Regions from separate parts of the Homo sapiens genome. Here all the other regions are linked to region 2. Evidence: fine-mapped expression QTL. A gene starts in region 2. Each other region holds a variant in brackets. All regions are shown on one strand. Distances are from middle to middle. Region 1 overlaps TBCD (tubulin folding cofactor D). Region 2 holds the start of TBCD (tubulin folding cofactor D). Region 3 overlaps TBCD (tubulin folding cofactor D). Region 4 overlaps TBCD (tubulin folding cofactor D). Region 5 overlaps TBCD (tubulin folding cofactor D). Region 6 overlaps TBCD (tubulin folding cofactor D). Region 7 overlaps RAB40B (RAB40B, member RAS oncogene family).

Region 1 (4,064 bases), 180 kb before region 2:
GGAGAGCACGTGACGAAAGGCTGCGGCCACTCACCTTGGGTTTCGCTCACGTTTCCCACTGAAGCGGGATTTGATAATCCCCGCAATTCCCGAGTGCAGAATGTCTCGGGGCCCCGCTCGCATGTGGCCCGGGTCTCCCCGCACGCGCCCGCACGGCGCAGAGGGCACCTCACGTCCTGGGGCCCGGGTCTCCCCGCACGCGCCCACACGGCGCAGAGGGCACCTCACGTCCTGTTACGTGTTTTCTAGGACTTAGCAGCTGTCACAGGGTTGCCACATAAAGCAGGTCATGACCCAAGGTGCAGGGGCCACGAGTGACAAGATGCAGAGAGGCCTTCAAGTTCCACAGCTCAGCCACAGACCAAGGCTCTGGAGACCCTCCCCACAGACATGAGAAGCTGGGCCTGGAGCCCTGAAAGTGGAGGGCGGAGGCCGATCTAGAACCTGATGGAGCCCAGGTACCCACATGCAGGCATCAGACACAGGTCCTGGAGGATTGAACCCCGAGGGGACGCTGGGAGCTCCAAGGCTGCGGCCGCAGGAAGAGAGTGGCGCTGGCCCTGTCCCACCTTCATCAGACTCAACCATCCCACAGGCCCTAAGCCTCCTGGGTCATGAGGAAGACACTGGGCCCCTGACCCCCTAACCAAATATGCCCGAGAGAGATAGAAAGCAATGGAAGAAAAGGCCCAGCTCCATACATGCTCCCAAGAGACAGGGAAGCACCAGGCACTCCTGGAGCCACCTCCTGCCCCAGCCAGCCCGACGCCTCCTCACCGTCGACTCCGTCAAGCCGCCCAGGGACACGACTAGCCCCAGCAGGACGTGGTAGCGGTAGGTGGGCAGCCCAAGGAGCTGGGTGATGCGTGGGAAGGCCTGGGAAGGTGCACTCCAGTTCACGGAGGCCACATCGGACCTGCAAGAGAGTGAGTGAGACAAGGCCGGGCTGCCAATGATCTCGCCATGGCTGCGGGGCCAGCACGGGGGGCCTACACCCCGACAGTACCTGGGAAACAGCTTTTCCAGTTCTCCTCGGTGGGGCACGTGGGGGATGGGAGGGCTGTCAAAGTGCAGGAGCGTCAGGAACACGCTGGCGGCGTGAGCACGGAAACGGTCAATCTTCTCACTGGCCTGCTGGGCCACACAGCACATGATGCGCTCACAGCTGCAAACCGAGAGCAGGAGGTAAACCAAGGGCGGGCGGTAAATTAAGAGCGGGCGGTAAACTGAGCACAGGCGGTCCGAGCCGTGACTCCAGCCCAAGCACCACGAGGACATGCGGGCTCCTCGGGACATGGTGGCTGAGTTGGCAGCTGACACCAGGACACTGGCTCGGAAGAACCACACTCCGTTACCTTCACATCCCAGGAGCCCAACCCTACAGGTGCGCAGCAAATACATGCTACGTACTTGTTACACATGTGCTACGTGTTACATGCGTGCTGATGAGGTCTTAGGGTTGAAGCAGGGACAACAAATAGGATTACAGGAGCGGGTGGAGAAGAGTGATGGGGACAGAGAGGCCGGGGATGGGGAGAGAGAAGCTGGGGCTGGGGAAGAGATGGGGAGGGGGAAAGAGAAAGAGGTGAGAACTAAGGAAATCAGGCCCTGGGATCCCCACGGCC[G/A]AGTGTCCCTGACAGAGAGACTGACAGCAAGGGCAGGGCCTGGACCCCCATGACTCAGTGCCCCCGACAGAGACCCGCAAGGGCAGGGCCTGGACCCCCTGACTGAGTGCCCCTGACAGAGATCCGCAAGGGCAGGGCCTGGACCTCCATGACTCAGTGCCCCCGACAGAGAGACCGACAGAAAGGGCAGGGCCTGGGGGTACCCACAACCCCGTGCCCCCGACAGAGACACACAGCAAGGGCAGGCCCCAATGGCAGCCTCAGGTGCAGGGAACTGAGTGATGGCTCAGCTGGTCCTGGCAGGAGCAGACCCCCAGGTTCAGGGTCCTAAGCTGAGAAGTCCCCACCTCCTGCCCGGCCCTACCCCGGGAAGCTGGCTGTCATCAAACTGGCCAGAGCACCGTTGGAGGCCCAGGCTGGGGAGCAGAGCCTCGTCCTGGGGGCACTGGGCAGAGGAGGATGGGCCCCAGCTCACGCCATGGCTATGGGGGCAGGAGGAGGGGCCTGCACAAACCTGGGGTCAGGGACCAGAGAGGCTCTCTGGGAGGAGGGTGTGTGCCCAGCAGTGCAAATGCCACTGAGCACCAGGACCGCCCGCCCCGCCAGCCTCCCCAAGCTCGGGGCTGCCCTCTAGGATGCAGAAGAGCTGCGACGTGACACTCACGTATGGGCCTCGATCAGCTCAGGCTGGCTCCGAGCCAGCAGAAGTGTCAGATCCATCAGACTGGTCATGGCGGCCTTGCGGACCCTGATGGGACAAGGAGAGGCAGAGACACCCAGCTTGAGAGGGGGGTTCCAACCCTGGTTCTGCCCACCACGCCGGCAGCCTGTGTGAATTCGACACCCGTGACTAACCCCACACAGAGCCCAGGCACGCTGCCAGGGAGTCACGGGGCCTGCAGAGGTTCCCTGTGCGCTACAGGGACGTGTGCAGGGAGCCACCCACAGCCACACACACCGGGGCCCCGAGGCATCCTACACACACAGGCGTTTCAGGGGTTATCAATCCCACTACAGCAAGAAATGTTGGCAAAACCCAATGTAAGCAGCCGGCAGCCTTTCATTGAAGACGCGTCCTCCCTCACACCCTGTCAACGAGGACGACACAGGCCCAACACCTGAGGACGGGCTGGACAAGCACCTGCAAAGCCCTGCCACGCAGGCTCACCCGGGAGCAGAGAACAGGTCATCTTCCCCAGAGCCTTTAAAACGCAAAACACGGCACAAATCTACAAAGATTTCTCCCTGCAGAAAAGCCCGGGGCCTCCGAGTTTCCACGGAATAGATGGGCTTCTCAGAAGAAGCGCTCACCCACTGCTACGTACGTACCAGGTGCCCACGTCCCCTCTGCTGTCCGTGGTGTAGTCGTCCATGCAGCCCAGCAGCGCACAGTAAATCTGGGAAACATTCTCTCCGCACACAGCTTCGTCTGGGGCTCCTGCTTTCACACCAACAGTCTGGCAAATCCTGAAATTTAAAATGTGTGAGCTAACAAACAAACATCGGTGAGCCTCATCTTCCACATCGCAGAGGGCTGATGTGTGTTCCTGATCCTGAGAAGACACGCTCAGAACAGTCCAGGACCCTCGGGTAGATCAGAAACACAGAGCTCCTTCCACATGTATGGAACGTGGGACGTGCTTCCCCGAGGTCACGCTCTGCCGTCTCTCCGGTTGAAAGGTGGATGGGGACGCCCCCTGCGGCTGGTCCCTCCCACTTCCCACCCTGACTAGAGGGAACGGATGCTGGCATAGGAGAGAAGGGGGCGTGCGTGGCCCCCGCGGGACTGCTCCTCTTGTGTGCCTGCAGGGAGGAGAGGGCATATGGCGTGGCCCCAGGTGCGTGTCTGTCAACGAGTGCAGAGATCATTCCAAACACTGGCTGGCAGGGTCAGCTCCTCTTTGCCAACCTTGGGCCAGGACACATTCTCCAATTCTCCAAGGGGCCCAGTGTCCCTAAAGAAGTTTAACATTCACTACGACTATGACAGCAAGAGAATGAAAGAGCCTCCAGCAGCTGGGACTGACGATCCTCTGGAAGAGAGGAAACCTAGGAAGTGAAGAATCATAAGTCCTGCCTCTGAGCAAAAACATCCCCCTTAGCGTTCATCTGCTGGCCTTTCAGAGACTTACGACTTTAGGGAGGAACTGTTGGGACTCACCTCGCAATGGCCTTCAAGCCGTCTCTCCTGGACTCAGCAAAACTTACGTCCTCGGGGGAAGTGTGGGTAACTGCTCTTAAACCTGTGAGAACCTGGAAAGCAATAAAGAATCACAGAAGAACCATAAGCTATAACAAAGTGCACTCTTTAGGGAGGTGGCAATGTTGGCCCGGAGCCACAGACCCCACACCATGAGATAGGCAGCTCCTGGCACCACCTTCCTCACGGCCATCCATGGCCCCTGGTACAACCCAGGAAGGACACCCGGGGAGAGGTCA
Region 2 (4,059 bases):
TGATTGTATACCCCTAACCAATCAGCCACCCCCACCCTTTCCCCCAGATTACCTCTAAAAAACCCTGGCCCTCAAATTCTCAGGGAGACTGATCTGAGTAATAATAAAACTCCAGCCGGGCGTGGTGGCTCACTTTGGGAGGCTGAGGCGGGTGGATCACGAGGTCAGGAGATCGAGACCATCCTGGCTAACACGATGAAACCCGTCACTACTAATAATACGAAAAATTAGGTGGGCGTGGTGGCGCGCACCTGTAGTCCCAGCTACTCGGGAGGCTGAGGCAGGAGAATCACTTGAACCTGGGAGGTGGAGGTTGTGGAGGTTGCAGTGAGCTGAGATCTCATCACTGCACTCCACCCTGGGGGACAAAGTGAGACTCCGCCTCAAAAAAAAAAAAAAAAACCTCTAGTCTAGTCTCCCTTTCAACCGGCTCTGCGTGAACTAAATCTTCTCCATGGCAACTCCCCTGCCCTGACAAATCAACTCTATCTGGGCAGCCCGCAGAAAGAACCCACTGGGGCCGAGCGCAGTGGCTCACACCTGTAATCTCAACACTTTGGGAGGCTGAGTCGGGCGACCACTTGAGGTCAGGAGTTTGAGACCAGCCTGACCAACATGGTGAAACCCCCTCTACTAAAAATACAAAATTAGCCGGGCGTGGTGGCGCGCGCCTGTAGCCCCAGCTACTCGGGAGGCTAAGACAGGAGAATAGCTTGAACCTGAGAGGTTGAGGTTGCAGTGAGCCAAGATCGCACCACTGCACTGCACTCCAGCCTGGGCAACAGAGCAAGACTTCGTATCAAAAAAAAAAAAAAAAAAAAAAGGAAGAAGCCATTGGGCTGTTACACCAGGAACAAAAAATCTGGCTTCACTGGTCCCTGGATGAGGGTCCCTCACCCTCAGAACAGTTCTGCACGAGAGGCATCGTTATCCGCCCCAGCTTACACCCGAAGAAACAGGCAATCAAGTATCAGGTCCAAGCGACAGGGCCAGAATTCACAGGCAGGAGGATCTGACGCCGAACCCGCACTCCTCCCACAAGGCCCCCCACCCTGCCTGACTCCTAAAATCAAAGCGCTGTCATTCTAAAATGAGGAAGGCCAAATAATGCAAAAGTTCTTCTTACTCAAAGGGTCTACAAAGATGATTTTACTGAATTACAAAACCCCATGTAACTACTTAGCTATGAGCTCCTAAGGACTTGTTTGGAAATAACCCATTATAGACAGCGGTAAAGGTGGGTCTGAACTCGGAGAATTTAGACTCATCGAATGGCCTCCACAGGGGTACCTACACCCCACCCCGCCTGCAGAGGCACGGACCCGGCCAGCCCGCTCTGTCCACGGCGTCCACGGAACGGACAGGCTGCTGCCCTCCCCACCCGAGGCGCGCTTTGTTTGCAGCAGGTTTGTTCCCTGCGTCCCCCTCTCTCATTCCCTATCTCCCTGTCCACACAACATTCACAGAAACCGCGCTCGGTGGAGGCAAGCCTGGGAGTCCACACTGCAGGGCTGACCAGCTGTCCGGAGGGGTCTGGCCCGAGTCTCCCCAGCCCAGGGACCTCCTCCAGTGACGGAGACGGGGGACGGAGGGCTTCTGCACCCCGCCTCCCGGGGAGGCCGCAGAGGCTTCACCCCGTGCGAGAGCAGGCGCTCCGCGGGCCACGGTCCCCCCAAGGGAGGCGCGCGTCTGCCCCGTGCACCTAACGCCGCGCCGGGGTGGCCCTCTCCCGCCTAGGAAGGCCGCGCCCCACCACGGCCCGCGGGACCGCGCACCGGCAGCCCTCGCAGAGCGGCCGGCGCCGCCGGGCTGCGGTCCCCGCCCGGTAAAGTGCACTCAGCGCGCCGAACCCGGGCCGGGGGAGGAAGCGGGCACGCGGCGCCGCCCACGCACCGCGGAACCGCTCCAGGGCCACCTCGCGCTCCGCGCCGCCGCCGTGCACCTCCCGCAGGCGGCCCAGCAGCGCCCGGGTCTCCGCGCTCTCGCCGAACGCTTCCAGCGCCGCGCCAAAGGCCAGTGTCTCGTCCTCCGCCTCCTCCTCGGGGCCGCCCGCGGCCGGTTCGTCGCTCAGGGCCATCTCGGCAGCCTGGGGACCGCGCCCCCGCCTCACGTGTTCGCAGATCCCACTCCGCTAGAGCGCGAAAGCCAGGGATGAAGGATGAGGGATGAAAAGGAGGCGCCCGCTAAGGCGGCAACCGACGCTGGCCCCGCCCCGCGACCTCCGACCCCACTCGCCGGCCTCGCTACGGAACGCGTCGGCCGCCAAAATACCGCGCGCGGGACGGCGCGTGCACTTGAGGACGCGAGCGGGCACGGGTCCCAAAGGCTCTGGAAGAGCGCGCCGTGGACCCCACAGGGCGCGAGCGGAGCCGGGACCGCTCAGCGGGGCCTGAGCACGCGGTGGGCGGGGCAGGACAGGAGGTGGGGCCTGAGACGCGGTGGGCCGGGCTGCGGGGTGAGGCCGCCGCCGGAGGACAGCGGGGCGGAGCCTGAGCAGGCGGTGTGCGGGGGGGCGGGGCTTCGGGATGGGGCCGGGGGCCGCCAGGGCGGGGCTTGAGCACGCGATAGGGGGCGGGGCTGCGCGCAACGGGGGCGGGGCCCGGGCACGCGTGGGTGGGAGGGGCAGGGCTTGCGGTGGGGCCGGAGACAGCGGGGCGGAGCCACAACACGCCGGGGGGCGGGGCGGGGGCGGGGCGGGGGCGGGTGGGACCGGGGGACCGCGGAGCGGGGCGGAGCCTCAGCATGCGTGGACGGGGAGGGGCGGGGCCTGAGCACGCAGTCGGGGGCGCGAGGCGAGCCCCGGGACCCACCCCTCAGAGCCAACCGCCCTGACACTTATTCGCGCCACGCTGGGACCCGCGCGGATCACACGGGCCCCGCGCCGAGTGGTGGCGCGCCCCAGAGCGGGAGCGGGAGCGGGGCCCGGAGGCCGCGGTGGGCGCTGCGCCGACTTTGGCCTTGGCTACCGGGTCCGCGTGCGTTTCCCCTGAATCGCCGCAAAAACGTCCGTGCACAGCTCGCCGTGCGTCTGGCCCTGAAAGCAGCCCCACGAGCGGAGGAACGAGGCGCAGGACGCCAGCCGAGACCCGCTGCGGGCTTTATTGGTCCCCAGGATCTGGGAGGGGTCGGGGGAAGGGGGACAGGGACAGGGGGGACGGGGACGGGGGACGGGGACGGGGGGACGGCGATGGGAGACGGGGATGGAGGATGGGGACGGGGGAACGGAGACGGGGACGGGGCAGGGGGGACGGGGACGGAGATGGGGGACGGGGATGGGGGGTCGGGGACAGGGGGATTGGTATGTGGACAGGGGGACAGGGGGACGGGGGACAGGGATGGAGGGACGGGGACGGGGGGACGGGGACAGGAGGATGGGGGGACGGGGGGATGGAGACGGAGGGACGGGGAGACGGGAACAGGGGGACAGGGACGGGGGCACAGGGACGGGGGACGGGGGGACAGGGACGGGGAGACGGAGACGGGGACGGGGACAGGGGAAGGGAGGGCAGGGGCCGCTACTTGAGCAGCCTTCGCATGGTGCCCAAGGAAGGGCTCCTGTACTCCCGCCCGAAGTGGTTCCAGTGGTTCAGGTAGTTAAACAGCTGGTAGAGCAGCAGCCGCTGGTCGAAGCCCGGAGCCTTGGGGATCTTCCGGTGGTAGGCGGTGAAGAAGGATCTGGGGAACCCCCCAAACATCAAGGCGATTGCCAGTTCAAACTCGGAATGGCCATAGAAGGAAGCCGGGTCGTAAATAATGGGCCCCACGTCGTCCTCAGCCACGTTTCCCGACCAGAGATCCCCGTGGAGCAACGCGGGGACAATCTCTAGGCCACAAAACAGATCCGGGATCTTCACCTACGAGAGCAACGGCTGCAGTTATCGCTGGCCTCTGGGAGCCCCGGTCTCATCACCTCGTTCTTGGAAATAAGGCAAAGCCCACTCGCGATCTGCTTCGGTGTCCAGCCCCAGCACTGCCTGCCAAGCCCAGAAATAGGGGCCACCTGACTTCAGGGGAGTCTAGCTTTGTCTAACTTAGGATTTCCTCCTAATTTAGGTCTAG
Region 3 (4,064 bases), 130 kb before region 2:
GCCTGTTTTCCTGCATCTCGCACTGTCTGTCACCCCAGACCCACTGGCCTTGCTCTCCAGGTTCACAGCACACCTCTCAGGCAAGGGGCTCACGTATCCTCATGTTCTCTGCGCTCCTCTCTCCTCGGCCCCATGAGTCCCCAGGGCATGGGCTCGGGGATGCTGAGCTAGGAGACCTACAAACTACAGCCACAGAACTGAAACTCGGGGGCATTTATCAGAGAGAGCACTTGTCCCCCAGCCTCCAGTGCTGGGCACAGGTGCCCGCTCCAGGCCCTGGAGATGGCCCAGAACACGCCACAGGGCCACAGTCTCCTCCAGCATGTCCAACGTCAGGGGCTGGGGGGGAATGGGCTTGACAGCGGGGTGCTGGGCACAGACTGAAGGAGGCAGGAGAAACAGGTGGGAAGGTCCCATGGGTGCGAGTGGGTCTGAGTGAGCAGCCCACAGAGGTGAGCCCACAGCAAACAAGGAGGAGCAGGACAGCTGGCCCCAGGGCCGGTTGAGAAAGTCCTCCCTGCGGCTGGACTCTGCACTTCCTCGGAGAAGCTGGGGCATGTGACTCGGGCCTTGTGACCAAGTGCTCTGCTGATGGGGATTTGGGACGCCCAACCATCCAGGAGCCCCAGGAGAGGCCAAAGGTTGGGTGGGGCAGCAGCCAGATGGCCAAGAGGGCCTGGGTTCTGGGGAAATGCCTGCAAGTCTCACAGGCTCTGCCTAGGAGGGAGGGAGGGAGGAAGGGAGGAGGGGAGAGGGGGGAGAGACAGAGAGAGAGAGAAAGGACCCCTAGAGTGTGGTCACTGAGAACCACAATAAAAACAGAAATTCATAGATGGAAAGGGTAGGAAGTTAAACTAACAATATAGCATAAACATAGGAAGCATCTTTTGAAATAAGAATGGCAAATGAAATTAAATAAAACAGAAACAACATAATACAAACCACCAGGTGCATTTTCCACCCCAATCAAGCTCAGACGTGCCGAGGCCCAGAGCGGGCTCCACAACGACATCAACGCAGCCCAAAACACGGCCACCAACCATGGGCAAAGCCAGGAGGGCACGTAGGCACGGGGTACCCCAAGGCTCAAGCAGAGGGGCCCCTCCAGCCCCAGCAGCAGGCAGCAGGCCCGTATCGGCTGGGAGCGAGAAGCTTCCATCCAGAGCGGGTGCGGGGCTGTCAGGAGTGGCCTGGCAGCTCTCCCCGCTGGCTGCTCCAGCATCAGCACAGCCCAGACCCACGTTCCGGGACCTCCCCAGGATGCTGCAGAAGCTCTGCACCCCTCATCGGCGGCAAGCGGCCTGACCGAATGAGCTACCGTTTACTTGGTTTAATTACTAACAACCACGGATCACCAGTGGATAAAGCGTTTATCTCACATTTTAGAGAAATGTTTGCTTATTGCAGGGACAATCTGTGGTCTCAGCGTGGAAAGGCCCTCTTCTACCACAGGGCCGCTTCTCAGCTCACCACCGGGCCGAGAGAGACCCCAGCGTCCAGGCCACAGCAGCAAGCCCAGGTGGTTGCAGTGTCCAGCCAGCCTTGCAAACAGACGCCAGGAACCAGAGCCAGAAAAAAAACAGAAGGATGGAGCCCAAGGGGAATAGGGTGGGAGGCTTCTGAGGGCTGGGGGAGGCCCTTCCCAAAAGCACTGGCCTCCCTGCCCTGAGGCCCTGCCCTGTGTGGCCACAGCCACAAACAGAGCCCAGAGCTATGGGAGTACACGGCCTCCTTCCCCGAGTTCCGCCTGGAGCCATCCAAAGTCTACCCCTCGGCCACTTGCTCACTCACACTGCAAGGATGGCCACAAACCACCACGCTCTGCACCCTGGGGAGACGGCAACAACAAAGTCCCTCACGTACGGGCCACTGCTATGCTCCGACAGACCCTGCGTCCTCCCCGCCCAGCCCCTCCTGCTCCTGTGGACAGACGGACGGACAGACAGGTGTCAC[T/C]GTGTGGGGAGCCTGCGGTAGGGACCCTGCAGTTCCTGCTGATACCTCCGGGCCCAGCACCTCCCAACACCACGGAGGCCCACCCGCTACCTGCCCTGAGGGCCTGGATGCCTCCTCCTGCCAGATCCTTGGGGCATCCAGCAGCACACCCAGGTCTTTCAGTTCCTCCACGTAAACAACAACAAAGTCATAAGCCCAACTACCCTGGTCACAGCATATCTGTCCCCACCCTTGTCTTCAGCAGAATAATACCCACTCCCAAAGATAAGGGTGTCCCACTTCAAACATGTTCCTTTACCTGACAAAGGGGAATTAAGGTTGGCAATCAGTTGACCCTAAGATGGGGAGAGGGCCCTGGATTACTCCTGCAGCCCAGCGGGTGCCGAACACAGTGGTACACACCAGCGGCCCTGGCTACACCTGTGCTCCATCTGTCTGTGGGAGGCAGAGGCAGGAGGATCCCTTGAGCCCAGGAATTTGAGTACAGTCTGGGCAACACAGCGAGACCCCATCTAGACAGACTGATAAGTAGACAGGTAAGGAGATAAATACATACAGGAAGGAAGAAGGAAGGACAGACACAGGAGGCAGAAGAAAGGACCACAGGCATAGGGTACGTGAAGGATGAAGCGAGACGTGGACGTGGCTGGCTGTGAAGGTAGATGAAGAGCCCATGAGCAAAGGAATGCGGGCAACTCAAGCAGGGAAGCAGAGTCTTCCCTTGAGCCCCCCTGAGCCTCCAGAAAGGACTGGAGACACCCAAGGAGACAGGTAGGCCTGTGACCGCCAGGTCCGTCCAACAATACACCACTCCAAAAAAAAAAAGGAAAGATCACTGGGATGAGTCTTAAGGGCACTGTGCCAAGTCAACGAAGCCAGAATGAAAAGCCTACTGATTATTTCCGTTTATAAGACACTCCAGAAATGGTAAACTATCAGGACCAAAATCAGACCAATGTTGGCCCAGGGTTGGGGAGCAGACTGGGGAGTTTTTGGGGGAGACGGACTGTCCTGTTTGGTGCTTGAGTTGTAGAACACAACCACATGCAGATTGAAGAAGCAACAATCACAGACCTGGGGAGCCCAGCACAGAGGGAAGCGGCAGACGTGTCTGCATCCCGGACCAGCACAGAGGGAACCGGCAGACTTGTCTGCATCCCAGACCAGCAGCACCAGAAGGGCTCACCCGAGCGATGGCCTGGCAACGCTATGCCCAGGGTGAGGAGGATGCACAGAGCGTCCCACCCTGAGTGGTGAGTCTGTTGCTCACACAGGTGTGGGCTGGCAGCTCCAAAATCACGTCAGATGCATGACGGCAGACGCACGGCAGCAGAGCGTGCTACACAGTAGGCCCAGAAGCGGCACACGAAGGGAGGCCAGGAGGAAGCTGGGCTAGAGCTGGTGTCTGTGCAAACATGGACTGTGAAGAGGGGCACACACTCAGCTACAGAGGGAGGGGACCTAGAGGCAGCTGAGGCCAAGCCCGGCGTCCTGGATTCCAAATACTGTTCTCCACCGAGAGGATGTGAGACTCCTGGGAAGTGGTGGATGCTAGGGCTGGGGCAGGGGCAAAAAGATAAGCCAGGTGCATCTTGTGGTGCCAGAAGGAAAGAAAAAAGGCTCAGGAAAAAAGAAAAAAAAAAAAAAAAAAAAGAACAGGATCTTGCTGAAAGGACACAGAAGCCAACCTGAAGTGGCCAAAGCTGGAGCAATTTGAGCAACATTAATAACAATAGTTAGTGTTAGATTATAACTCAAACAAAACTAGTAACAATAGTGTTAGATGATAACCCCCAAACAGGATGAGCACCCATGAGTCCACACTGGCAGGAGCGAATGATGAAATAAAGCTGGGAGAGGAACGAGCCTTCCTTAAGAACAAGCTGCAATCACTGAACGTCGGGGTGGGGACACAGGAACCACCACCAGACCACACAACAAGGTCTTTGGACAGAGCTCGGATGGGGTGAAAACCAAAGGAGAAACAGCAGGATGTTGCATAACCTTCGAGTACCCCACAAGAACACTGCTAGTTACAGAGGAAAACACAGTCTCCTCAAGTGGAGGCACCTGGCAGGCCCCATCTTGACCAGGGATCAAGGTCCAGACCA
Region 4 (4,064 bases), 170 kb before region 2:
GAGCAGCCTTGGAGAGGCACTGGGGGCGGGGCAGGTGGGGGCCATGAGCAGAGGAGGTGCGTCGTCTACAGGGTGCTGCATTCCACGAGTCACCACCTGTGCCAATCCCAGGGGCAAAGTGCACCAGCATCATGGCCAGTGTGAATTAATCATGGACTTTTGAAATAAAATTTTGAGGCACTGATCATGATGCATTCAAATTCAATTAGTAGAACGGTACTTGGATCCTACAGAATGTTCAAGTTCCTTAAGAAAAAAAAAATAAGAAAATTGAAGATGCTAAGGAAAAAGAAATGCTAAGCATGGAGGAAGTCAGAGAATTACAAGACACCTAAATGTACTTCCATTCTTCATCCTCAATATCAAAACCTAGTCAACGTTGGTAACCATGGTTTTTTTTGTTTTTGTTTTTGTTTTTGTTTTTGAGGCAGGGTCTTGCTCTTGTCACCCAGGCTGGAGTGCAATGGCGTGATCTCGGTTCACTGCAACCTTCGCCTCCCAAGTTCAAGCAATTCTCCTGCCTCAGCCTCTTGAGTAGCTGGGATTACAGGCACGCGCCACCTCGCCCCGCTAATTTTTGTATTTTTAGTAGAGATGGGGTTTCACCATGTTGGCCAGGCTGGCCTCGAACTCCTGACCTCAAGTGATCCACCCGCCACTGCGCCGGGCCCATGGTTTCTTATCTATGCAATGAGATCAGCGTTACAGCTCTGTGAGTCCAAAGTCCACCTGTAACCCCCAGGACGGGAGGGGAGGGCAGGTGGCCGGGGACACACACACACACTGGCACCCACACAACATGACCAGGTCAATGTGTGCGAGCAGAGGTCCTGGGGTGCTGTTTTCTCATCTGCACAGGAGCATCATAAAGGGAGTTTCCAAACCTCAGATCCTACAGGACACGGAACTCAACAGAGCACAGTTACTATTGATGCAGAAAAAGTATTTCAAAGGTAACTATAATTAAAACAGCCAGAAGCAATAAAAAATTAAACATTCGGATTCCAATGGCTGTATTGGATTTTCTGGTTATAAACCGTGTAGACGCTACCATCCGGGATTCCAAATAGAATTATGCCCCCATTTGTCAGTTATCAGGCTACTGCAGGGACAGCCTCATGATGCACAGTCGCCAACACAAACACCATCCGTGACTAACACACTAACACCGCCACAGCGCCGGCCGGGAACGCCCATGCTCACTGTACCTTCATCTGCTGGCGGGAGTGACTTGAGATGAGATGGAGATGTCTCAAAGTGTCATTTATCAGCCATTGCCAACCATCTGTCAAAAAATCAAGTTAGCGTACCCAGGCAATCAAAAACACCATGAAATCAAAAACAACAGCAAAAACAGCTTCTATTAATACTAATCTTAAAGTCGATGGTAACCTTTGAGAGGAATCTGTGGAAAAGCCAAAGTGAACATTCTCCACGTTGTGTTAAGTCTAAGGCCCCTTCCTCTCATGGCTGTTAAATTGTGTAAGCTCTTATTGAGGGAAATACCAGCATTCTGTAAATTTTTATACATCACATTTTGGGAAACTTTTATTCTTTTGTTACCCCTAAATCTTTTCCTTCAAACGGTCTCCCCCGGCTCCCACCAATATAAACCCAAATCTTTAACTCAATTAGATCCTGCACAAGCAACAAATGTGAAGGCTATTCAATTAACAAAAAAAAAGTCCTAACTTCTGAGGCTGCTGAGACAGCCCCGGGACACCACAGCCCTGGGGGCTCCCTTCACTGTGCTCTGGCAGCCCAGTGTGGGGGGCTGCTGAGGAACTGGAGCCGCCTCTGCCCACAGGGTCCGTGGTGTCGGCGGCCGGCACGCTCCTGGTCCACGAGGGCCTGGGTGGCTGCAGCTCCCGACTGTCTGCCTGGGAGAAGAACTGACCCAGAGTGCCGGGCCCTGGGCATGGAAGCGAGGAGGTGGGGGTACTGAGGTGACGGCGGGGAAGGGCCCTCCTGTGTTGGGGGGAGAGGGCGGTGGGTACCCATTATTTAAGCAGGTTCTTGTAACAACTTCAAGGCAACGTATCCGATTAATATCTTGAACCTTTAAGCTATAATCGTTTATCGCCCCCATCCTAACAGGTTCATTTTTACCTTTTAATCTGAAGTCATTCTGTAAGAAAATGCTATTATTAAAAACAAAAGCACTTACCAATTACGGTGTCACCTCTAAAGGGCATTTTGGAAAGTGACAACTTTTCTATTAAAACACACACTGGAAAAAAAAAAAAAAAGGATAGACGCAATGTTACTTTTCTAAAAGCGCCTGCCACAGCGGCTTGCCTTTGCCACATTCTGAGTTGTGTGCGGCCAGCTCCTGCCCCTCACCCGCCCAACCTACC[CT/T]GCTGCCAGGGCTGGAAACATCCCAGAACCATTTCAGAACCACCATGAGAAGCCCAAGACGCCTCCTCCGCTGAGCAGCCTGAAGAAAGTGCTGCAGACCCAGCCACGTGGCAGAAGGCCCATGTGTGAGCCCACGTGCACTTCAGAGAAGCCGGGCCGGCCTGTCAGGGAGCTGCAGACGTCCCTGTGACAGGCTGTACGGGAAGCATAGCGGCTTCTGCTCCTAGACCTGTCACTCAGGACCCAAGCGACAGACAGCCATCACCTGCAATGCTCCAGACCACAGGTCATGCCTGTCACTTCCCCACATAGCTCGTCACTCACACTCTCCATGACCAGAAACGTGGCCCTGACCAGCCACGAGGGGGCCAGGACGCACGAGACAGAGACGACTGGACAGCATCAGCAGCTCCCACGGCCACACACTGCTCTAGCTCCCACCGTCTCTACCTAACAACGGAACCCACTCGCAGACGCCTGCTGCACACTTGTTCATGGTATTTGCTATTTCTCCTGAGGGACTAAACTCTCCTTCCATTTTTTGTCACCGTGAACAAGGAGGCCTGACCGTGCTACAGATGCGGAGGCCGTCGGTCCACCTGGCGTCCCTGCACACAGGACAGGGACCACACACACACTTCCCATCGTCACAGATACTGCCACTCATCAAACTGAACAGACCAGACAACTCCTGTTCCACGAGAGACCCTGCTCTGTGTCTGTCAGCACCAAGATTCTTCAGTGCCAACCGCAGCCGACTGGAAAGAGGAAAACGGTCCTCTCGATGTGAAGTAACCTGGTACTTCCATGCCTCCGAGGTGAGGCCGGCACCCTCACCGTCCACGGCCACGTGAGTCTGCTCCTCTTCTGCATGAAATGCCCACACGTCTGCTCTGCCCCATTTCATACTGGATCCTTTACCTCGTCACAGGCAGTTTTACAATTTAGTCTTTGTACACTAATTAACTTTTTACCTTTTCGACTGTAGAACAGACGTTTATTCTCAATCTCCGTTTTCCCTACCAACCTACACATGGTCTATTCTTCAATATAAGGCCCAACATAATTATCTCCTTTTGTTTCTACCTTGTGGAATTATTATGATAAAATCTGTTAGCTGGGGATTACATGCCAAGAGGGGGGAAACAAAAAGAAACAAAAAACCCCAGAAAACCAGTTCTTACCACAAGTTAGAAAAACCCAGCGAGGGGCTGCTGGGACCTGACATTCAGGGTCTTCTTTAAACTCAGAGGAGGGGAGGAGAAAGGAAGCGCCGGGCGAGACTCTGGGCCCCCCCCGTAAACTACTTCTCTTTACTTCTGCGCAGATTTGAAAATTTCTAAACTAAGAAGTTTTCTTCAGAGACTGACACTGTCCTACAACGTCTCCTAAAATTTCTTCGAGGATTTTTATGATGGTAGTTTTTATGCGTAAGTTATTAGTTACTCTCACATTTAGTTTTAGATACGACTTTACCTTCTTCCACGTGGGCACCTGTGACACCATCACTCACTCAAGTGACACGCCTTTGTCCCAGCGCGAATCCTTTCAGCTCTGAACAGAGTACTGCTCTGATGTGTGTTGAGGACTGGGAAATGAAAGTCTTAACTAGTTTTTAAAATAATTTTCTTGGAGATGCACCTGCATGTGAACTTTAAATGTATTTTATAATCAAGTTAAAAACGGCACGCGCGGCTCAGCGGTGC
Region 5 (4,064 bases), 42 kb before region 2:
GCCAGACAGACCACCAGTCACGCCTGTGGAGCAGAGCAGGGTCTCTGCGCTCCTGTTCCTCTGTCTGTAAAATGGGGCAGTGGCAGCACCCACCTCCCTGAGCCACTCAGAATAACACATTCACCAAGGTGATCAGAGACTTAGCCCCTTTCTCTTTAGCGAAATGGATAGTAACACGTTCCCTACCAAGTGAATGGAGATGATCCTTGTTTGCCCAAAACAAGTTCTCATTTAACTTTAAGAACTCTTCCCCATCTTTAGTTTGTGTGAAATATAAAATCGAAAGTTAAATTATTTCACACCAGTCCAGATGTATCTAATTTAATATGTGTTTTAACCCTAAGTCATCGGTTTACAGAGCCAACACTTGCTGAGCAGAAACCGTGGGGCACAGGCGAGCTCCCCGCAACGGGACGCGGGGTTCGGGGGCAGTCGCAGGGCCAAGCACACACTCAAATTCCCTGGGAGGTGGGCTGACGGCCTGAAGCCCACCAGTGTGCAACGAGAAGCCGGACCGCGCCTGGGGGATAAGAAGACAAGACACTTCACAGAGAAGCTGTCACTGCAGCCGGCTGGCCAGCTCAGTGGGGAACAGAGTTTGCCAGACGGACAATCAAGGGTCCCTCACCCACCACCTTGGTAGGCTTCCAACTGCCACAACCAACAGAGGCAGGCAGGAGTGATGCCAGTGACCCCCAATCCCAGGTCAGAAGCCTGGCGGCCTCTTTCAGGGCCTCTCCAGACACCTCCCCTTGAGACACTCCCTCCGGGAAGCCGGCTGCCATGCAGGAAGAGCCAGCTTCAGTCAAGGGCCCCTGCCGCACCCAGCCCTTCAAGGCACCTGCCACGTGGTCTTCTCGGCAGAGGCCCAGGCATCAAAGGGCAGTAACAAACGGCCCCCTGCACCCCACCCTGCGAGGCCACAGAATCGATCCACGCAAGAGTGCGGCTGTCACTGATGCCACCAGCTGTGGAGTACGTTGTTCCACAACAAATGAACCTGCGAGCGGCTGAAATCTCATCCTACAGGCAAAGAGCACCACCGTATCACCTGCAGCCATGGCCACATGACCAGATTCCAACAGCAGCTGGATGGAGAACCTGGGGATGAACAGTGAAGTGCTCAACAACGAAGACCGCTACAGAGGCTGCTGGAAAACCCCAGTGGGAAAGGCCAGAACCTAAACCAGAAGAGCAGCTGTGCAGCTGTGGGCGGACGCAGGACAAAGATCCGGGAAATGACCTCTCTCAGCAACAGGCTACCGTGTTCCCCGGTCTCTCTCAGCAACAGGCTATCGTGTCCCCCGGTCTCTCTCAGCAACGGGCTAACATGTCCCCTGGTCTCTCTCGGCAACAGGCTGACGTGTCCCCCAGTCTTACTTGGCAACGGGCTAACACGTCGTCTGGTTTCTCTCACTAAATAAAAAGAATCCAAGACACTGTGAAATTCCTAGAGTGCCCTCACACATGAACGTTGTTTAGTTACTCAATTCCTATGAAGTGTAGTACAACATTCTCTACAGCAGACTAAGATACAAGTGGTGATGAGTTCTCGGGAAAGCAAGCATCATCTCTTGTAACTGGCCTGGATGCCCCACACCTGGAAAGGCCCAGCCCAGCTTCCACCGTCCCCAGCTACACACAGGAGACAGCACCAAGGCCAGGGCCCGCCACCATCTGCAGTAAGGGAGAAACCAGAACC[C/G]CACACATTTACAGGGCGAAGGGTCTTTTTCTCCTCACACTTCTCTCTACCCTGGGGACAGTTTCCAGCTGAATTACACAGGCAGCCTCCTGGGCATTCAGCACACACAGAGAAAAGCCCCAAAAGTTATCCACTTTCCCAGGCATGGGTGCAGGAGGGCAAAAGAGACGACAGGGAAGGAACGAGTCAATGAAGACAGGGCTTTGTTTCCATTTATTTCACTGAAAAGTAAGGCCATCTTCACCAGAGAAAGTGTGCAGTGTGCAGTGGCCAGTGCTCAGCGTGGCGGTGGGATGGGGTACCTGTCAGCAGGAGGACGCGGCCAGAGAGAGCGCACTCTAGTCATCAATGGTCTTGAGTGCTCATAAGCTAGGCCATAAAATGGGGGGCACAGCCCACTTTCATGGAAGCATAATGGGAACCAAATTAAAACCACCTGCTGAAAAGCATACACTAGACAGAGGTGATGACACCAGGGATTAGAGGAAAACAGCCCTGCATGGTAAATGAGGAATGACTGCAGGTCTGTTTTTGTTGTTCTAGAAACCAGCACAGCACAAGCTGCAAACAAAAGGAGTTTCTCAGCAATCATCCTAACCCGCCCCACCTTTCGATGGCTACCCACCCAAGCTGGCTTCTCTGCAACGTGCGAGCCAGCTTCCCCCCCCTGGGGCATGTTCTCCAAGCCCAGTAAATCACAGGCTGTCGAGCTACTCGGGAGCAAGCTCACCCGCTGCCAAGCAGGAGATGCTGGTTTGAGGCTCCCTTCAGGCACTGCCAAATCTAGGCCAAGAAAAGCAACTCCACCCGAGGCCCTGGGAGAAGGGCCCCCACACCACACCAGTTCAGGCTTGGCTCTGGCTGGTAACACAGGCTTCTGAGAAGCTGTGAGTGCCGGCCGGCACTGAGGCAGATGGCTGAGACCACGCTAGCTCCAGGCCAGCGGGTCACCCTGTGGCCCCACATAACCATGCCGACTCTGCAGATGAGGAGAGCGAGTCTGTTCCCCTTTCTGCCATCCCGAGTCCTGCTCCGACACCAAGAAATGGTATCTTGGGAAGCAACCAATCGCATCCGTGCCCCCGCAGGCTCAGCACACGGAGGGTAGCCGTGCCCCCGCAGGCTCAGCACACGGAGGGCAGCCATGTTCAAAGCCACTCTTGGGCATGCCACACAGAGGGGCCACAGGACAGGCACGGAAGAGGATCTTTAACACCAAAACAACCCTTTCCAGGCTGGAATGCCTTGAGAGCACAGCCCCAGGTCCGTGCCTGTGCTGCAGCGAGCCCACCAGGGCCAGGCCTTTCCTGGAGGGCAGTGAAACCCATGCTGGGCTGCACCCTGCAGGACGTGCAAAGGCTTCACTGAGGAACTCTGGTACGCTCGAGGCTCCCCTCAGCAGCAGGGCAGGAAAAGAACCTTCCCACCACACCACTACTGGAGGCCAGAAAAACCACAACGTCCAGTGCATTTGCTGGCCTGCAAAAATCAAAGCGAGGGACATCTTAAAGAGCCCCACTACCACCCCTAGAAAGAGCAGCAGTTGCCCTAGACAGGACGGGAGAGCGCTCAGAAACAGAAGAGAGCTTGTCCTCAAGGCGGGGCCTAGGGGGCACTGGTGGGGACAGGCCAGACCACTGCCTCCCCCAGGAGCGAGCAAAATGCACTCCCCTCAGGACCACCACACATTCAGAGGAAAAAAGCCATTGACGGAAGTGAAAACTTTCATTGCTGGATTGGTAAATGACTGATTAGAATCAGAGCCCCAGAGTGAAAAAATATACTGTTTCTGACAAAATAAATTTCTGACAAATTATAAAGAATTTTAAGAAAACAAATATCAAAATGAAAACTAATTTCAGGCTGGGTGTAGTGGCTCACACCTAGAATCCGAGCGCTTTGGGAGGCCAAGGCAGGAGGGTTACTTGAGCCTAAGAGTCCCAGACCAGCCCGGACAACATGGCAAGACCTCATCTCTACTAAAAGTACAAAAATTAGCCAGGTGTGGTGGCGTCCACCTGTAATCCCAGCTACTCAGGAGGCTGAGGGGGGAGGATGACTTCAGCCCGGGAGGTGGAGGTTGCAGTGAGCTGAGATCATGCCACTGACGCCAAAAAAAAAGGTAATTTCACACAAAAATGCTTCAATGATCGAAATAATCACATCTAGCTTTTATCTTTCCAGAACGAAGTGTTATTTTTCACCAAACTTTGGACTGTAAGGTAAACACTAATTACCTTCACAGGTGGGGGCCATGCAAGGCCCAGCTCCACACCCCAGCACCGACCTGGCAGCCCCTGACCTGGGTCCATGTCCTCATCCATAAACCAAGGCAACACAGCTCTCAAAGAGAGTGTGGAAA
Region 6 (4,064 bases), 180 kb before region 2:
GGGAAAAGACGTGTGAAAATTGCAGAGGGGGTGACCGAGGGAAACACGTGAGCGTGATAATGACAGAAAAACCAGGGAAGGAGCAAACCTGGGCAGGGGGTGGGAAACCCGGGCCGTTTCCAGGGAGCACAGGCAGACTCAGAGGTAACACTCAAAAGCAACAACAGAAGCAAGGAGGAAGTGGGAAAATATTTTTAATGTGCTACAACGAAACAGCTGCCTGAATTCTATATACCCTCTGAAAATAATCTGCACATAAAATGGGAAAGCTTCACCGCAGCAGACCCCACTCGAGGAAATCCAAGGGAGTGTGCTCTAGGGAGAGGGAATGTGAACCCCGATGGGGGGGGTCCCAAAAGCAGTAAGTGATGAGAGACAAAGAAAGTAAAAACGTGGAAAATTCAAAGTAACGCAAATTACACATACCACAATGAACAGGAAAGTACGTACATCTAAGACAAAATATCCGACAATAGCAGCACATAACTCAAGACGGAAGCACGCGGAACCAACACGTTCTAATATCCTTGCTATTGTCCAATAAGGACAAAATGCTGAAAACTGGACTTCGCTAAGAATACGTGGTGTCATTTCTAATTTCTAGGGTAAGCGTTAACAGAAAAAAGTAAAATGTCCCAAACAAATATATGAAAACAATGGAATGACAAAAGCAATTCTACTAATCCAACAAAAAGCACAGGTGGGGGCGGGGAGGGGGCACTGGGAACGCAGCACAGGGAAAAGTCCTGTGAGTGGCAGGCTGAGAACCAAGGGGATTATAAAGGTCATGAAGGAGGCAGGTAAAAGCTACAGGCTGAATTTTTACAAAACCATACACTGTTCTAAGAGAGGCGTACAAAAACATACATGTATGAAGATACTGAAAGTAAAACGATGGAAAAAAGTATACAGTTCAAAGTCAAGTGAAGCAAGACAAAGAATGAGTGGAGCAAAAAGCATCCTAGAAATGGGTGATAAGGGCAAGATTCAGCCCACAAACACGCTTCAAAATCTGAAAAGCCAAAACTGACAAAACTGTAGAGAGAAATACAAAGCTGTATTCATAGCAGGACATGGCAGGAGGTATTTTCTCTACCATCCTATCTTGGAAAAAAAATTTTTTTTTTGAAACAGAGTCTGGCTGTGTTGCCCAGGCTGGAGCACAGTGGCTCAATCTCAGCTCACGGCAACCTTCGCCTCCCAGGCCCAAGCCGTACAGGCACCACCACACCCGGCTAATGTTTTTGTATTTTTTGTAGAGATGGGGTTTCACCAAGTTGGCCAGGCTGGTCTCAAACTCCGGAGCTCAAGTGATCCACTCGCCTTGGCCTCCCAAAGTGCTGGGATTACAGGCGTGAGCCATGGCGCCCAGGCTTATTTTGAAATTTTTAAGCCAGAAAAATATATGTCAATATTTTAGGCCAGGTACGGTGGCTCACGCCTATAATCCCAGCACTTTGGGAGGCAGAAGTGGGCAGATCACCTCAGGTCGGGAGTTCGAGACCAGCCTGACCAACATGGTGAAACCCCATCTCTACTAAAAATACAAAATTACCTGGGCATGGTAGCACATGCCTGTAATCCCAGCTACTAGGGAGGCTGAGGCAGGAGAATCACTTGAACCCAGGAGGCAGAGGTTGCAGTGAGCTGAGATCGCACCAATTCACTCCAGTCTGGGCAACAACAGCAAAACTCCATCTCAAAAAAAAAATTTAAATGGAGTATTTAGCATTGTATTAAAGGATAATACGCCACAACCGAGCTGGGTGCACCTGTGAACATGGAGGCTGTTCCAACAGCAGGTGTAAGAAGGTCAGTCAGTGATGCCCCATTAAGAAATTAAAAGGGGAAACCCTTCAATGCTGTTAGATTTAAAAACATGTGCAGCGTCCAGCAAAGATGGAGCAACAGAGACCAGATCTGCCTCCCGCCCGAAGGTTAAGGCAGAGCCAAGTCCAGCAGGTGGCAGACTCCAGCGGGAAGCCCGTGGTGAGAAGCGGGAAATTCCAAGTCTGCAGAGCTCGCTCAGGTTCTGAGCACCAGAGGGGGCTTCCTGGGGGCCGCTGAGGACTAACCTGGGCCTGGGTCAGCCAGTACCTGAGTACGAGGACGCTGTCCAAGGCTGGGGACGAACCACCCAAAAGATGGCCAGAAGCCCCGGCACTGCCCCAGCAGCGGTGGGAAGGGAAGCGCCAGGGAGCAGAGACCTTAAAGGGGCAGAAAACCCTGGAGACCAGCACAGCTCTGGGTCCACCTGACAGCTTAAGAGTAGCGCCCAAGCCAGGCTCAGTGGCTCACGCCTGTAATCCCAGCACTTTGGGAGGCCG[A/C]GGTGGGCAGGTCACTTGAGGTCAGGAGTTCGAGACCAGCCTGACCAATGTGGTGAAACCCTGTATCTACTAACAATACAAACAATCAGCCAGGTGTGATGGTGCACAGCTGTAATCTCAGCTACTCAGAAGTCTGCGAGAGAACTGCTTGAACCCGGGACGGGGTTGCGGTGAGCTGAAATCGAGCCACTGCACTACACCCTGGGCAACAGAGCAAGACTCCATCTCAAAACAAACAAAAAAAAAGCAGTGCCCCCAAAAACAGACCACGCTGTCTCCGGATGACCCAACGTGCCCCAGATACAAATATATCCAGGCCAGACGCAGTGGCTCACACCTGTAATCCTAGCACTTTAGGAGGCCAAGGCAGGCACTTGGGGCCAGGAGTTCAAGACCAGCCTGGGAAACATAGTGAAATCCTGTCTCTACTAAAAATACAAACATTAGCCGTACATTAGACTACAGCGCATGCCTGTAGTCCCAGATACTTGGGAGGCTGAGGTAGAGGCTGCAGTGAGCTGTGATTGTGCCACTGCACTCCAGCCTGGGAAACAGAGCTAGACCCTGTCTCAAAAAAAAAAAAAAAAAAAGACTGGCCCAACACGGTGAAATTCAATGAAGCAAGAAAATATGGCAGCAACGAGATGACCACTCAGAGCCAACAACCCAGCTGAGACCAGCCTGGGGCATCCGCGTGGCGCAGAAGCAAGGAGCTCCAATCTCCTGGGCAAGTCCTCGCCAGGTCACCGGCCTCTGCCCTCTCCCCTGCGAGTCTCATCCCCGTACAGCCGAGGCCCCTTCAGGCCCTGCGGCTCCCAGCACAACCCTGAGGCCCACCCCTGGCCCGGTGGGATAGCTGGGGGGAGAGTGCACAGCAGGGCCCCCGCCTCAGCCCCAGATGGGGCTGACTGCACTTACAGTCATAATATGTCATTATGTAAATATGTTATTATTGCGTTATTTTGAGGGCCAGCTGTGATGACGGTATTTACAGTCACCATAACTGACCCAGAACGCACTGGAAGATCATTTCCTGGAATTCTGATCTCTGTGTCTGATGACTTTTTCTTTAATACATGAGCTACTTAGGCTTAATCGGAAAGGAAGTCATGAAAAGCAGAGCCTCACTCCTCCTCCGTGGTGAAGATGTCGAAGCAGCCGTGGGTGAGCACGTGGTCCAGCGTCTTCAGCAGCGGCACGGACACCCTGAGGGGAGAAGGAGCTGTGAGACCCTGGACACCAGCAACAAGGACGCCCAACTCCCTGAATGGCTGAGAGTCAGCAGGATCCCAGTGGAAAGCGACAAGCCCCCTTTATAATTTACGTGGAAACGCAAAGCTTCAGGAAAAGACAAAACAACTGTGGAAAGAAGAAACAAGGCTGGAGGCTGACGCTGAACTTCGAAAATGATGGTAAAGTGGAAGGGATAGAAACAGCACGGCCCTGGTGCAAAGTGAAGCAAACACGTCGGGCACAGGAGAGTCCAAAGTAAACCCACAGTTTCTTACAAAGCTGCAACGGCAATGCAGCGGAGAGGGGAGCCCTCCCAGCAATTGGGGTGGGCACCGCTGGGCGTCAAGGTGCCTGTGCCGACGCTATACCATGTAAGAAACCTCACTCAAGACGCGTCCCAGGTCTAAATACACAACCCAAAACTATAAATCTTCTAGGACAAAACAGAAAATCTCAGTGACCACGGATTAGGCAAGCTGTCTTAGACACACCAGAAAAATCTGT
Region 7 (4,064 bases), 87 kb after region 2:
TTGGTCTAATCTACCTGGTGGCGTGATGGGCAGTCTCTGTGGACAGAGTGTGGAGTTTAGCAGGAGACAGAGGAGGATGCGGGAAGCCTGGACTCCATGTCTCTGGGGCTCTGGTGGCACCACAGAAAGAGCCTCTGGAGTCCAGGAAGGGGGCAGGGCCCGGAGGAGGAAGCAGAGGGCAGGGGACAGGCTGGACACAGCAGCTGTGGGAGGGAGGGGTGCTCGGGATCTCATGGAAGGCGCTGCACAGGTGTGCTCAGATCAGGCAGGTGTGCCATGCACGTGCTCATGGCTGCATCAGTGGAAAGTGGAGGACAGAGGCCCAGAGCTGCTGCAACGCCCAGGCCTGCCTGAAGATGTGGGCGACCAGCTGTCCAAGCCAAGTGGGAGGCCACCGGTGGCACCGCCACTGCACACCTCGCTCTGCCCGACAGGAGACCAGGAACTCGGCACACTGCCTCCTGGGATGCAGGGGGGCTTGTGGCCAAGTCCAAGGGTTCTAGACCCTTCGAGGGGGCAGAAGCTGCTTGAGAACCGTGGCCTCCGCAGCCTCGCATTTTTAGAGGAGCCTGTTTCTGGGCACTCACTGGCTACATCGTGGGCTTCTCTGGAAGGAGAGCTGCAGAGGCCGTGTGCTCCACGACGGTCTCCAGGGTGAGGTCTGGTGCGAGCCTCGGCGCTGCTTCTCCCCTCGGCCTCTCAGCGGCGCGCTTCCCTTTAGAATTCTGATTCCCTATTCAGCCATACTTGTCAAAGCACTCAACATCCGATCACAGCCGAGAGTGAGGCCAGGGCTTGTCTCTTGTAGGTTTAGTGCTTTGAGAGATACTGTCAAGTAAATCCTATACATGAAATAAATCAAGCAAATCCCACAAAGGCTGGTCATGTCTTGTTACTAAGCAGTTTGGGTTCCTGTGATTGTACGTGTCATTGTACCTGGTTTTAGGAAGGCAGTGCTCCTACCCGGCATTCTCCAGCCCCTTAACTCAAACCCTCTCTTTCCATGTTCTCAATGACAGACCTGGTGCTCATCCGGAAGCGCTAGAAGTGAACACAGGAGATGTTTCCTAAAGAAGCAGAACACTGGTGTCTGGGGGGTGATGGGGGCGGGGAAACATATTTTTCCCTTTAAAAATATTTATTGGCCGGGAGCAGCAGCTCATGCCTGTAATCCCAGCACTTTGGGAGGCCGAGACAAGTGGATCACCTGAAGTCAGGAGTTCAAGACCAGCCTGACTGATATGATGAAACCCCATCTCTACTAAAAATACAAAAATTAGCTGGACGTGGCGGTGTATGCCTGTAATTCCAGCTACTCAGGAGGCTGAGGCAGGAGAATCACTTGAACTCAGGAGGCCGAGGTTGCAGTGAGCCAAGATTGCACCACTGCACTCCAGCCTGGGCAACAAGAGCGAAATTCCATCTCAAAAAAAAAAAATGTATTGTGGCCAGGCATGGTGGTTCATGCCTGTAATCCCAGCACTTTGGGAGGCTGAAGTGGGAGGATCACTTGAGTCCAGGAGGTTGACCAGCCTGGGCAACACAGCAATGCCCTGTCAATTAGCCAGGTGCGGTGGCAGGTGTGGTGGCAGGTGCGGTGGCAGGTGTGGTGGCAGGTGCGGTGGCAGGTGCGGTGGCAGGTGTGGTGGCAGGTGCAGTGGTGTGCCTATGAGCCCAGGAGGTAGAGGCTGCAGTCAGCTGTGATTGTGCTACTGTACTAGAGCCTGGGCGAGGGGGAGACCCTGTCTCAAAAAAGATTTTTTTTAAGTGTAGTTTTTTTTTTTTTTTTTTTTTTTTGTTGTTGTTCTTGTTGTTTGTTTTGATACAGAGTCTCCCTCTGTCGCCCAGGCTGGAGCACAGTGGCACAATCTCAGTTCACTGCAACCTCCGCCTCCCGGGTTCAAGCAATTCTCCTGCCTCAGCCTCCCTACTAGCTAGGATTCCAGGAGCCCGCCACCACACCCGGCTAATTTTTGAATTTTTAGTAGAGATGGGGTTTCATCATATTGGTCAGGCTGGTCTTGAATTCCTGACCTCAAGTGATCCACCCGCCTCAGCCTCCCAAAGTGCTGGGATGACAGGCGTCAGCCACCGCATCCAGCCCTTAATTGTAGCTTTTTATTTTAGAAGAAGTGTTCCAGCATGGTGGCTTATGCCTGTAATGCCAGCACTTTGGGAGGCTGAGCCGGGCAGATTGTGTGAACTTAGGCGTTTGAGACCAGCCTGGGAAACATAGCGAAACCCCGTCTCTACAAAAAAATACAAAAATTATCTGGCCCTAGTGGCACATGCCCGTAGTCCCGGCTACTCAGGGGACTGAGGTGGGAGGATCACTTGAGCCTGGGCTGTGGAGGCTGCAGTGAGCTGTGATCACGCCACTGCACTCCAGCCAGGGCGACAGAGAGAAACTCTGTCTCAAAAAAAAAAAAGAAGAAGAAAGGCATTCTCGGGTTTTTT[T/G]TTTGTTTGTTTGTTTTTAACTTGAAAAAATAGAAATGTGGAAAGAAGGTTCCAGCCTACCTGTAATCTGCACCCCAGAGGTGGCTGGGACGGGTGTGCAGTCCCGTGTCCCTGCACATGCGTGGTTCACATGCACATGTACACAGCTGAGAGCGGGCATCCCACGCAGCGTCACGTCTGTCTTTACTGTACTTTCCTAGTGTGATACTGGGGGACGCAGTCTCAGTGTCTGCAGAGCCGCTGCCTTAGCCCCGTTCCCTTGGAAACAGAGCTGAGTCGGAGCTCTCAGGCCTGCAGGCTTGGGGAGGAGGTGGGGAGGGAAGGACCAGCCCAGACGGGGGCACACCCAGCGGCCACAGCCCCGCGGCAAACCCACCGGCCTCCAGGTCACATGTAGGCCCTGCAGTGCCTGTCGGGGAGCCCCCTGGGCCAGGGTGATGCGAGCCTGACCCCCACAGAGGCCAAGGCGGCTGAGGACAGGAGGGGCCCGGGTGCGGGAGGGCGCAGGCAGGGCCCCTGTGAGCTTGGGCAGACACAGGGAGGGGGTCCCATCCGCCTGCCTTGTAAACCTGGAAGTTGCACTGATGAGAAACCCTTTTCTTCCCTGAACGTGAGACTTCCAGCGTCCTGTTAGCTGCAGCCTCAGGCCTAAGCCGTCTCTAACCCTTCCGCAGGCATCGACTACAAGACGACCACCATCCTGCTGGACGGGCGGCGGGTGAAGCTGCAGCTCTGGTGAGTCTGGAGGAGGTGCGAGCGTCCCGCACCCCCAGGGAGTAACCCCCCTGGCTGGCATAGCACCCCCTGTCAGCACAGTGCCCCGGGGAGCACCCATCCCCCACCACCATCGGCACAGCGCCCCCGGGAACACCCTCCCACCACCACCGTCGGCACAGCACCCCGGGGAGCACCACCAGCCCCACCACCATCAGCACAGCACCCCGGGGAGCACCCTCCCCCCACCACCATCGGCCCAGCACCCCAGGGAGCAAGCTCCCCCCACCACCATCTGCCCAGCACCCCAGGGAGCACCCTTCCCCCACCACCGTCGGCACAGCGCCCCCGGGGAACACCCTCCCACCACCACCATCGGCACAGCACCCCAGGGAGCACCCTCCCCCCACCAACATCGGCACAGCACCCCGGGGAGCACCCTCCCCCCACCACCGTCGGCACAGCACCCCCGGGAACACCCTTCCCCCACCACCGTTGGCACAGCGCCCCCGGGAACACCCTCCCACCACCACCGTCGGCACAGCGCCCCGGGGAGCACCCCCAGCCCCAGCTGCACCAGGGCTTCTCTGAAGGAGGTGGTGGTCCGGTTGTCTGGGCCCCCGTCATCCAGAGTAGGGGACCCCAGAACGGACATAGCGCTGTGGCTGGGAATCGGCTTTTGGGATCAGAACCTGTGGCCTGGTGTCTGTGGGAAGATGCCAAGAGGGGACCGATGCAGCGTGGTTGAGGCAGCCCGGGGCTCCTGGGTCCCCCACGCCTGGCTCAGTGATGCCACTGAGCACCCGGCAGGGAGCTCGGAGCGTCCTGGTGCCAGCGGGGCTGTGGTCGGGCCTGCGGGTGGAGGACCCAGACGTGGGGAGGTGAGGACTTGC

The links. PIP is the estimated chance that this variant, and not a neighbour inherited with it, causes the effect.
Region 1: its variant is fine-mapped to the expression of TBCD in nasal epithelium (TOPMed, PIP above 0.99).
Region 3: its variant is fine-mapped to the expression of TBCD in whole blood (TOPMed, PIP above 0.99).
Region 4: its variant is fine-mapped to the expression of TBCD in whole blood (TOPMed, PIP above 0.99). The same link has a PIP of 0.9 or more in breast, cerebellar hemisphere, cerebellum, lung, skeletal muscle and skin.
Region 5: its variant is fine-mapped to the expression of TBCD in whole blood (TOPMed, PIP above 0.99).
Region 6: its variant is fine-mapped to the expression of TBCD in whole blood (TOPMed, PIP above 0.99).
Region 7: its variant is fine-mapped to the expression of TBCD in whole blood (INTERVAL, PIP 0.98).

What each region holds. Positions count from the first base shown.
Region 1 is chr17:82,926,214-82,930,277 of GRCh38, reverse strand. TBCD (tubulin folding cofactor D) reads right to left here. Exons shown (of 39, transcript NM_005993.5): 28 at 3,787-3,878; 29 at 2,955-3,092; 30 at 2,290-2,373; 31 at 1,007-1,165; 32 at 778-916. Among named protein-coding and RNA genes, the nearest start is that of ZNF750, 88 kb to the right of the region's middle. The variant G/A (reference allele first, on the strand shown) is at 1,626.
Region 2 is chr17:82,750,212-82,754,270 of GRCh38, reverse strand. TBCD (tubulin folding cofactor D) reads right to left here and starts at 2,206. Exons shown (of 39, transcript NM_005993.5): 1 at 1,894-2,206. The coding sequence starts at 2,077. FN3K (fructosamine 3 kinase) reads right to left here. Exons shown (of 6, transcript NM_022158.4): 6 at 3,075-3,854. The coding sequence ends at 3,516. RefSeq lists silencers at 1,645-1,964, 2,655-3,014.
Region 3 is chr17:82,878,602-82,882,665 of GRCh38, reverse strand. The region is part of intron 14 of TBCD (tubulin folding cofactor D); the gene reads right to left. Among named protein-coding and RNA genes, the nearest start is that of ZNF750, 41 kb to the right of the region's middle. The variant T/C (reference allele first, on the strand shown) is at 1,954.
Region 4 is chr17:82,918,722-82,922,785 of GRCh38, reverse strand. It overlaps TBCD (tubulin folding cofactor D), which reads right to left. Exons shown (of 39, transcript NM_005993.5): 24 at 2,168-2,230; 25 at 1,209-1,285. Among named protein-coding and RNA genes, the nearest start is that of ZNF750, 81 kb to the right of the region's middle. RefSeq lists an enhancer at 1,729-2,928. The variant CT/T (reference allele first, on the strand shown) is at 2,358.
Region 5 is chr17:82,792,562-82,796,625 of GRCh38, reverse strand. All of the region lies in intron 7 of TBCD (tubulin folding cofactor D), which reads right to left. Among named protein-coding and RNA genes, the nearest start is that of TBCD, 43 kb to the right of the region's middle. RefSeq lists an enhancer at 2,095-2,815. The variant C/G (reference allele first, on the strand shown) is at 1,703.
Region 6 is chr17:82,932,127-82,936,190 of GRCh38, reverse strand. It overlaps TBCD (tubulin folding cofactor D), which reads right to left. Exons shown (of 39, transcript NM_005993.5): 34 at 3,456-3,533. Among named protein-coding and RNA genes, the nearest start is that of ZNF750, 94 kb to the right of the region's middle. The variant A/C (reference allele first, on the strand shown) is at 2,328.
Region 7 is chr17:82,663,624-82,667,687 of GRCh38, reverse strand. It overlaps RAB40B (RAB40B, member RAS oncogene family), which reads left to right. Exons shown (of 6, transcript NM_006822.3): 2 at 3,132-3,192. Among named protein-coding and RNA genes, the nearest start is that of MIR4525, 2.7 kb to the left of the region's middle. RefSeq lists an enhancer at 2,846-3,346. The variant T/G (reference allele first, on the strand shown) is at 2,458.